2 linked regions of the Homo sapiens genome follow. The protein of the gene in region 1 interacts with the protein of each later gene in a pairwise test. Each region holds a gene or a part of one and is shown on either strand. Other genes may lie near its edges.

Region 1 (4,446 bases):
TCTGGTGGGAGCGACACCTGGACTTCAAGCTTCTGGCTCCAGAACTGTGAGGGAACAAATTTCTGCTGTTTTAGGCCACCGAGTTTGTGGTCTTTGTTACAGCAGCTCTGGGAAGCTAATACAGTCACACAGATAAAAGGGGGTGTGTCTTGGACTCATAATGAGGAGTACACGGCCAGGCCCTGCAGAATGACACGCCTGTCCCCGACCCTGCACAGATCTGTTGTCCTAGGGGGCCCTGGCAGGGAGCACCGCTAGGAGCAGGAGCATGCAGACAGGGACCAGAAGGGGTGCCCTGCTCCCTGCAGTTTCCACTCAGGGACTTGGCTGGTGAAGCCAGTTTGCCTTCTCTTGGCTCCATCTCCCACATCTGCTGGGGAGGAGAGCTGGGGCGCAGGCTCTGCTGCATCCTGTGCAGGTGATGGATGAGCTGGGCATGTCTCCTGGGTGCTCTCTCTGCCCTTCTGCATCTCTCGGTGGGGGGTGCTGGTAATACCTCGCTGGGCTAGGAGAGTGGCAAAGTCAGTTAAGGGCAGTGAACGGGGCTGGCCTGGGGCCTGGCACATAAGAGGAGTGCAGGAAATGGCCGTGCCCCTGCTGCCTGGGGTGGTGGGAGCTGATGTAGGCCTAAGGGCTGGGAGACCTGGAGCCCTGCAGGTGCCGCGGGGAGGGGCTGGCATTTCTCTGCAATCTGCCAGGCTGCTGAGTGAAATCTGGTGGGGCGGGGGTTGCTCAGGCAGAGTCCCCCTGAGGCCTCCCTGAACTCTGAGAAGACACTTGAGACTCAGAGCCCACTCCAGGGTCACCCAAGGTTGGGTGAGGGCAGTGTCTAAGCCAGCAACCAGCCAGTGCCCCCACCTGTCTGGGGACCCGCAGCAGGACGCCCCACCTCGGGGGTGGGAGGGAGCTCACCAAGTGGCTGTCAGTGGGTGCTCAGGAACTGACTGATTCCTGTGGAGCCCTCCAAATGCCATCCCTACAGGGACACCCCGACACTGGTCCACTGCGTGAGTCTGGGGTTGAGCTGTGAGGTACAGAGGACTTACTATGTGCTAAGCACTGTGTTGAGGGCTTTATTTTGCATGTTCAAATTTCATCCCTACAACAGCCCCATGAGGTGGGCACTGTTATCTGCCCGTTTTATGGATAAGGAAATTGAGGACCTGACTTGCTCAAGACCACAGAGTAGGGAAGAGGCAGAGTTGGGATTTGAAATAAGTCTATTTAACTCTTTCCTCTAAATCACGGCAGAGATTCAAGGACAGAGAGATGGCTTTCATCTCAATACTGGAGGAGAACACTGCTCTTCTTTTTTTTTGAGATAGGGTCTTGCTCTGTCACCGAGGCTGGAGTGCAGTGGTGGCATCATGGCTCATGGCAGCCTCGACTTCCCTGGCTCAAGTAATCCTCCCATCTTGGCCTCCCAAAGTGCTAGGATTACAGGTGTGAGCCGCCGTGCCTGGTGGAGAACACAGCTCTTAAGACACTGTGCAGTCGTTGGGTCAGGGAGATTTCCCAACAGGAGTCCTTCCTTCACTGTTCCCACACCAGCCCTCCCCACAGGGAGGAATGCGAATACCCACTGACGGAGAGGGAAACGGAGGCAGGCATGTGACAGCCCTCTAGCAGTTTGCAACTCAGAGACAGAAGAGACCACGTTTGAAGAGGGTCTCGCTGGCAGCCCTGAGCCCACCATGACGCTCACAATGCATTCAATGAACTGAAAATAACGTGTGTCCAAGTGACAGCCGGGTTCCCGGTGGCCAAGACCACAGCCGGTGGAGCATCTGGCAAGATTTTACTGCCAGGTGTGGGCGCGAGAGGGGCAACGTCCACAGCCTCCCCCGAACAGTGTCCACAGCCTCCCCCGAACAGTGTCCACTGCCTCCCGCGAACAGCCTGCCTCACTTTCTCCTGCCTCTCATTTTCCTAGGGAGCAGAGACGCTGGGGAGTTCCACTAAATAAACCGTCTCTTTTCCAGATCCCGGACTTGCTCCTCAAACAAAGCTGGGAGAAGGGGCTTCCCAGGCCCCTGCTTGTCTGGGAATGACCCCTGGAGGAGAGTCCTCTAAAGAATGCCTCGCAGCTGCCGCACCCCCTGCTGACAGCTGGAGGACAGGGGGCCTCTCAAGGGAAAGCCGAAGGGAGCTTAAAGAGACACAGGAAGCCTGCGCGACCCACCCACTGAGCCCCGAGGCTCCCGTGCTCAGCCGCAAAATGGGAAAAATACTTCCTGCTCCGTTAGCCTCCCAGGTTGTCACGAGCACCGCAGTGGAGACGTGGAAAGACCCCGGGTAGGAGGCGGGCACGCGGCTTCCCGGCCCACCCCGCCGCCCACCCGCCGGGCGCTTCTGGGCCAGCCCCGGGCGCTGGCGGGCCTCGCTCCCTTCCCTGGGTTCTGGAACCACGCTGCACTGAACTTTCCTCCAGGCCCGCACCACTCCGGCGGGGCAAGTTCTTTGCAAACTGTGAAGCGCCGCGCCGCCTTCGGCAGCGTTCCTGGCTCGGGGCGGCCCCTAGCCCGCGGACGGCTCAGGGGTCCCCTCCCCCGGCTCCAGGGCCTCCGGGTGGCCGGGAGGGCGCGGCCTTACCTGTTCCAGGTGGCGTTGGCGCAGGCCCGGCGCTGCTGCGTGCCCCGCTCGTCCGCGGCGGCGGCCGGCTCTCTCTTGCCCAGGTCACTGAGGCTGGGCGAACTCATGAACTTCAACCTGCGGAGAGTCCTCATGGTGACCCGGGCCGCCTGCGCCGCGCCCACGCGCGCCCCACGCCGCGCCCTGCGCCACGCCGCACCAAGGGCCCCGGGCCGGCGATGCGCCCTCTACGCGGAAACTCCGGCGAGAGCAGGAAGCCGAGCGGTCCTGCGGGGTCCCGCCCCGGCCCCGCGCCTCCGTCTCGGGTCCCGCGCCGGCCGCCCCGCCGGGTTAATCATTGCACGGAGAGGCTCAGCGTGGAGCGCCAGGCGCGCGGCCAGCACAGACCCGGCGCAAACGGAGGCCGGGGGCGGACCCGGGGGCGGGCCCAGGGGCGGGTCTCGGCGCCCCGGGGGGCGGGGCGGGGAAGGGGGCGGGGGCATCGCGGGCGGGGCGGGGCCTCAGGCGAGGGGGCGTGTGCAAGAGGCGGAGCCGGCGTCTCCGCGGCCGCAGCTGCCACGACGCCTCGCTGGGTCTGCCCTCTGAGGACGTGCTCACCCTCCTCCCCTCTTCCGAGGGCCCCACGTGCCCACAGGAAACCAACACGCACAGGACGCAGGGCCCAAGCCCAAGCGCCCGCCCCCCGCCCAGCACTGCGGTCGCGCCCACACGATGTCCTTCGACCCCGGCCCCGGAGGTCTCCCTCCACAGCCCTCCTCGCAAAGGCTGTGCCACAGAGGTGCCTCCGTACCCCTCACCTGAACACAGGCTCCCCCACCCAGTTCTCATGAGGACTTTGGGTAGAGGCCTTCAGTCCCCTCCAGGCACCTTGGCCCAAGAACCCACTCCACCCGGGCTCAGCCTAGACCCCCTTGGACAGGGACTTCAGCATTGCCTGGCTGCCTGGAGGATTTGCTGGAGTGAGGGCTTGAAGAAGTAGAGGGTTTGCTCCTTATCTCCCACCCCCAGGTCTCTTGGATGGTAAAACCAAGCAGTTTCCCAAGTCCCTGTGGTGGGGGCAGAGTGATCCCAGTGAAGGCAGGGCACAGCCGGTGCTTCCTGCCTGCTTCGCAGAGCACTTTTAGATGTCTGATTTCACATGAACTAACATGAACTACTTCCGTGAGGTAGAGATTATTCTTCTCCCCATTTTCCAGTTGAGGACATTGAGGCTCACAGAGTGAAATAACTTGCCCAACATTGTGCCAACATTGTGCAATCAACAAATGGTAGAGTTGGGCTTCACCACAGGGAGCGTCCAGCCCCTTGAACAGGGCCCTTCCCAGTCCCCAGCTTCTGGGATTCCCACAAGGCTCACCTGACCCCTCCATCAGATGGGGGGTGACAGCCACAGCTCCAGGAGCTGGGAGGGCCCCATATAAAATGTAAGAGAGAGGTGATGGCTCATGCCTGTAATCCCAGCACTTTGGGAGGCCGAGGTGGGAGGATCACCTGAGGTCAGGAGTTCAAGACCAGCCCGGCCAACATGGAGAAACCCCATCTCTATTAAAAATACAAAATTAGCTGGGCGTGGTGGTGCATGCCCGTAATCCCAGCTACTCAGGAGGCTGAGACAGGAGAATCGCTTGAACCTGGGAGGCAGAGGTTGCAGAGAGCTGAGATCTCGCCACTGCACTCCAGCCTGGGCAACAACAGCAAAACTCCGTCTCAAAAATCATCATCATCATAATAAAATAAAATAAAAAGTAAGAGAGCCTCATGAAGAGTCTTTGTTTAGTGCAAATCAACCAGTGTCTCCTGAGTACCTCCTGTGTTCCAGACATAAATACCATCGTCTTTGGGAGACAGAGACAT
Region 2 (3,801 bases), on another chromosome or scaffold:
GTGGGGAAAGCCCACGCCCTCAAGCACAAGGTGGAACCGGTGTACTTCAAGGTATGCGCCCCCATCTGCTGCAGAGCCCCCACCGCCCACGCGTCATGGCCATCTGCAGCTCGCAGGCTCTGCGACGGCTCTCTGGAGCAACAGAGGTGATCCCCGGAGTGGCTGCGAGAGGGAGGGGCAGTGCCCGGCAGCAGGATGGAGGGGCTGGGTCCAGGGCAACCCTTGTCCTGAGAGCACGGGGTTCCCAAAGCTGCCAGACTGTTGCGTTAGGAATGATCCTCTCGGCCACACGTGGGGCGGAGGGGCCTGGGGGTTGCAGGACGCAGGGCGCCCGGGCGTTCACTCCCCCTTCCTCCCTTTGCCCCCAGATCCTCTCTGGGGTCATTCTGGAGGTGGTCGCCGAGGAATTTGCCAGTGACTTCCCACCTGAGACGCAGAGAGCCTGGGCCAAGCTGCGTGGCCTCATCTACAGCCACGTGACCGCTGCCTACAAGGAAGTGGGCTGGGTGCAGCAGGTCCCCAACGCCACCACGTGAGGAGGCGGGCGAGGGTGGGCTGGGCAGCCTCCCCGCCATGTCCTCTGCTGTCCCCGAGGTCTCCCATATCTCCTGAGGCCCTGGGGCTGATCACCTGGGCAGGCACACTTGAGGCAGGCCAACCCTGGGGTCTGACATGTAAGAACAGGCATAATAGGAAAGGCCTTCAAGATGGCTCCCCTGTGACTTCAGGCTGCTCAGAGCCATGAGCCCTGAGCAAAAATCCTCCCAAAGAGCCTTCCCCTTCCCTAGAGCCAGGGAGAGCTCAGAGCACCCAAAGCCACAGCTGCCCAGGCAGAGAGGCGCCAGAGGCTCCTGGCGGTAAGGTCCGATCATCAGGCTCGGAGGCAGCCCAGGTCAGCCCAGCCACTTCCTCCCTGGGTGCCAATCACAAGGGGCTGTTTTTTCATCTCATGCCGACCAGTGCTGCTAAATGCCCTCTGCCTCAATAGGGCTAGAGCCCGGAGGATCACGAGGACACATACACACACACACACACCCCAGCCCACGAGGAAGCTACATGGGTGTCGCTCACACGCACACGAGCAGGGGCATGTTTACTTCCAGGCTGACCTGGAGGCTGGGCTTCCAGTTCTGGGCCCAGGAGGTGGCTCAAGGAGGGTGGCCGCCCTCTGTGACTCCTGCTGACTCGGAGCGTGAGGGGAGGGCTAGCCCCCAGATGTGGCGGTTGGGAACACTCGGCCTCCCTGGGCCCCCAAGGGGAGGCTGACTCTGGGAGCTGAATGGAGAGGCGGAGGCAGGGCTGGAGTAGGAAGGAGGAGAGGAGCGGAGGCGGGAATGGGAAGCAGAGGTCAGCCAGCAGCCCGGGACACGCGTGGTAGAGAAACATTCCCGTGGTAGAGAAACATTCCCAGCAGTTTCCCATGGAAAAGGCGGCGTCTCCCGCCGGGCTCTGCACGGGCCCCCAAGACTGCCGGCCCTTCTGTTCACAGGCACAGCTCCTGGAGGAGGTCCCCTGAGGGCAGCTGGGGACGCCAGGCCTCCTGCCCTTCCTGCTGCTGACCACACTGGCCCCGGGCTGGCTCCTGCTCCCCTCCCCCCTCTCCCGTCAGCACCACCCCAAGAGAGTGGAGTCCTCGGGAACTGCTGGCTGGAGCCAAGCCAACTCCAGATGTGCACAGCTGGGCCCTGGCCTGCCTGAGACCTGGGAGTCAATGGGAAACAAGCAGATGTTGGCCCACCAGAGGAGGGCACTGGCAGGGCGTGGAGAGCAGTGGTTGCCCCCTCACCCCCCACCAGCTGTCACCCAGAGGGTCCAGGGAAAAGACAGGGGAAGAGGAGGGGAGGGGGCTTGCCTGCCCTCCCACCCCTCTCCCCACGCAGGCTCTGCTGCCAAAGATGAGTTTGTTTACAGCCAGGACACAAGACTTCCTGCTTCCAGAGAAAAGGGCTTTTTTACAAGGGCCAAGAGAGACTGGAAAGAGAGCTGGCTGGGCGCGAGCCCCAGTGAATCAGAAACACATGGCCCAAGTTCCCCAGCACGCTGCCCGTCCTGCCCTCCCCACCCTGCCCTAGGGACTAAGATCTCTCCAAACCCCAAACATTTTGAAACGGCCGAAGTCTCCTCCTCCGCCCACTTCTGCTCCTTGTGGACTGAATGGAGATGGGCTACCGTGGAAACTGGCACCCCATGGGGGTTACTCCCAGCTGTCAAGTGGTGGGGTGGTCCCCTCATCCCTTTACACCCTCTAGCCCACCCCTAGTGTCCCTGGCCTGAGCCTGCAGAGCCTCCCTGCTGCCAGGGTCCCCATGGGCTCGAGGGTAGGATGGAGTTACAGAGTAGAGTCCTAGAAGGCCCTCGCCCAACTTCTCTTATCAGGGAAGCAGGGGTGGGCCAGGCGCCACTGTTTATTGAGCCGTCTCTGCTCCAGGGTGTGCGCCTTTGCGTGGGTGGGGGGTGGGGGGGGGGCGCAATGACTGCAGGGGGCGCTGTGTGTACCGAGAATACGAGAATACAGATGGGTGGCCCGAGGAGGGACGAGACAGGCCGGACAGAATGCGCCACGTTTCAGAATTAATGGAAAAAGAGCTCACATTGGTATCGTGCTTTGCAGTTTGTGAAACACTTTTTTACCCAGTTTATGTCACAAGACAGACATTATTCACATTTTAGAGAAAAAGATCCGGAGCTCCCATGGGCCAGTAGACTTGCCTGAGATCACACAGCACGTTCGTAGCAGGACGGAGACTAGAACTTGGGTCTCACGGTTGCTTTCAACTGCACTGTGCCGGATCTCTTGGCAGGAAGTGAGCCTCGCCAGCCCCAGGTCCTCCCCCTTTCCCCCGAGGGTCCTTCCCTGCCTCTGGTAACGTTTGTCCTTCCCTTCCTATCTCGTCCACAGCCCACCGGCCACACTGCCCTCTTCGGGGCCGTAGGACCCCTAACTCCACCCCCCTCCCTGGCAGCACCTCGAGCAGAAGGCCGAGTTCTGAAGACCCTCCTTGACGCTCCATTTCTGGGTGCCAAGGAAGCTGGAGGAATCCCTGACTCAACTTCCCCGAAGGAGGCCTCTGTGGCGGCCAGGGTCCCCCCCTGGAGCTGCTGGGAGGCGGCGCTGGCTGCCTGGATGCTGACCCCAGCGCGGCGGGCAGAGCGGGGCCCACTCTTCTTAGCTTTTCTACTCACTGTTAGAGAGAGACCTAGCTGAGCGGCTGGCAGGAAGCGGGACAGGTCTAGGAGTCCCTTAGGGAATAAACCAGCCCCGTTTCTATCAGCCCGGCCAGCATGCAGGTCTCCACATCACCATCTAGAGTATCACGCACACATCTACCATATATACAGATATATTCTATATACGAGCTATATATAAATATATATATACATATATATATACACACATACATATCTAGAATGTGTATCCGCGGCGCCCAGAAGCCTCGGTTTGGCCCACCTGTGAGTGGGGCAGGGAGGGGTTCCGGTTGTGCAGAGAACAGAGTGTTCTGGCAAAGAGGAAATCCCACAGCAGCGCAGAGGACCTGGGCCTGGAGGGGCAGGGCTGGGGCAACCCGGCTTGGCGGCAAAGCCCAGCCCCTTCTCAGACCAGCTCCCCACATTCCTGAATTCCACTTCCAGGCAGAAAGGAGTGGGCTCCCCCTACTCCCTCAGAGGAACTGACTCACCGGCTGTCCTAGAATGGGCAGGGGCAGAGCGAAGTTCTGGGTGGGATGACCGCACTGGGGGAGGGGCCTCAGTCCAGAAACCTCGACCGCTAGCTCCACCTGCCTTGGCCACCAGGGCAGCCCC

The links.
Region 2: the proteins of PRR5-ARHGAP8 (region 1) and CYGB interact in a two-hybrid assay, tested with the Homo sapiens proteins (one large-scale study listed by BioGRID).

What each region holds. Positions count from the first base shown.
Region 1 is NC_000022.11:44,700,755-44,705,200, reverse strand, and holds the start of PRR5-ARHGAP8 (PRR5-ARHGAP8 fusion protein), read right to left. Parts: upstream 2,998-4,446; 5' UTR 2,727-2,997; coding exon 2,593-2,726; intron 1-2,592. Other genes in the region: PRR5 (proline-rich protein 5), read right to left, coding at 2,593-2,709.
Region 2 is NC_000017.11:76,527,710-76,531,510, reverse strand, and holds part of CYGB (cytoglobin), read left to right. Parts: coding exon 1-51; intron 52-368; coding exon 369-532; intron 533-1,489; coding exon of another isoform or gene 1,490-1,559; exon of another isoform or gene 1,560-2,893; intron 2,894-2,899; coding exon 2,900-2,933; 3' UTR 2,934-3,801. UniProt on the Homo sapiens protein: Probable multifunctional globin with a hexacoordinated heme iron required for the catalysis of various reactions depending on redox condition of the cell as well as oxygen availability.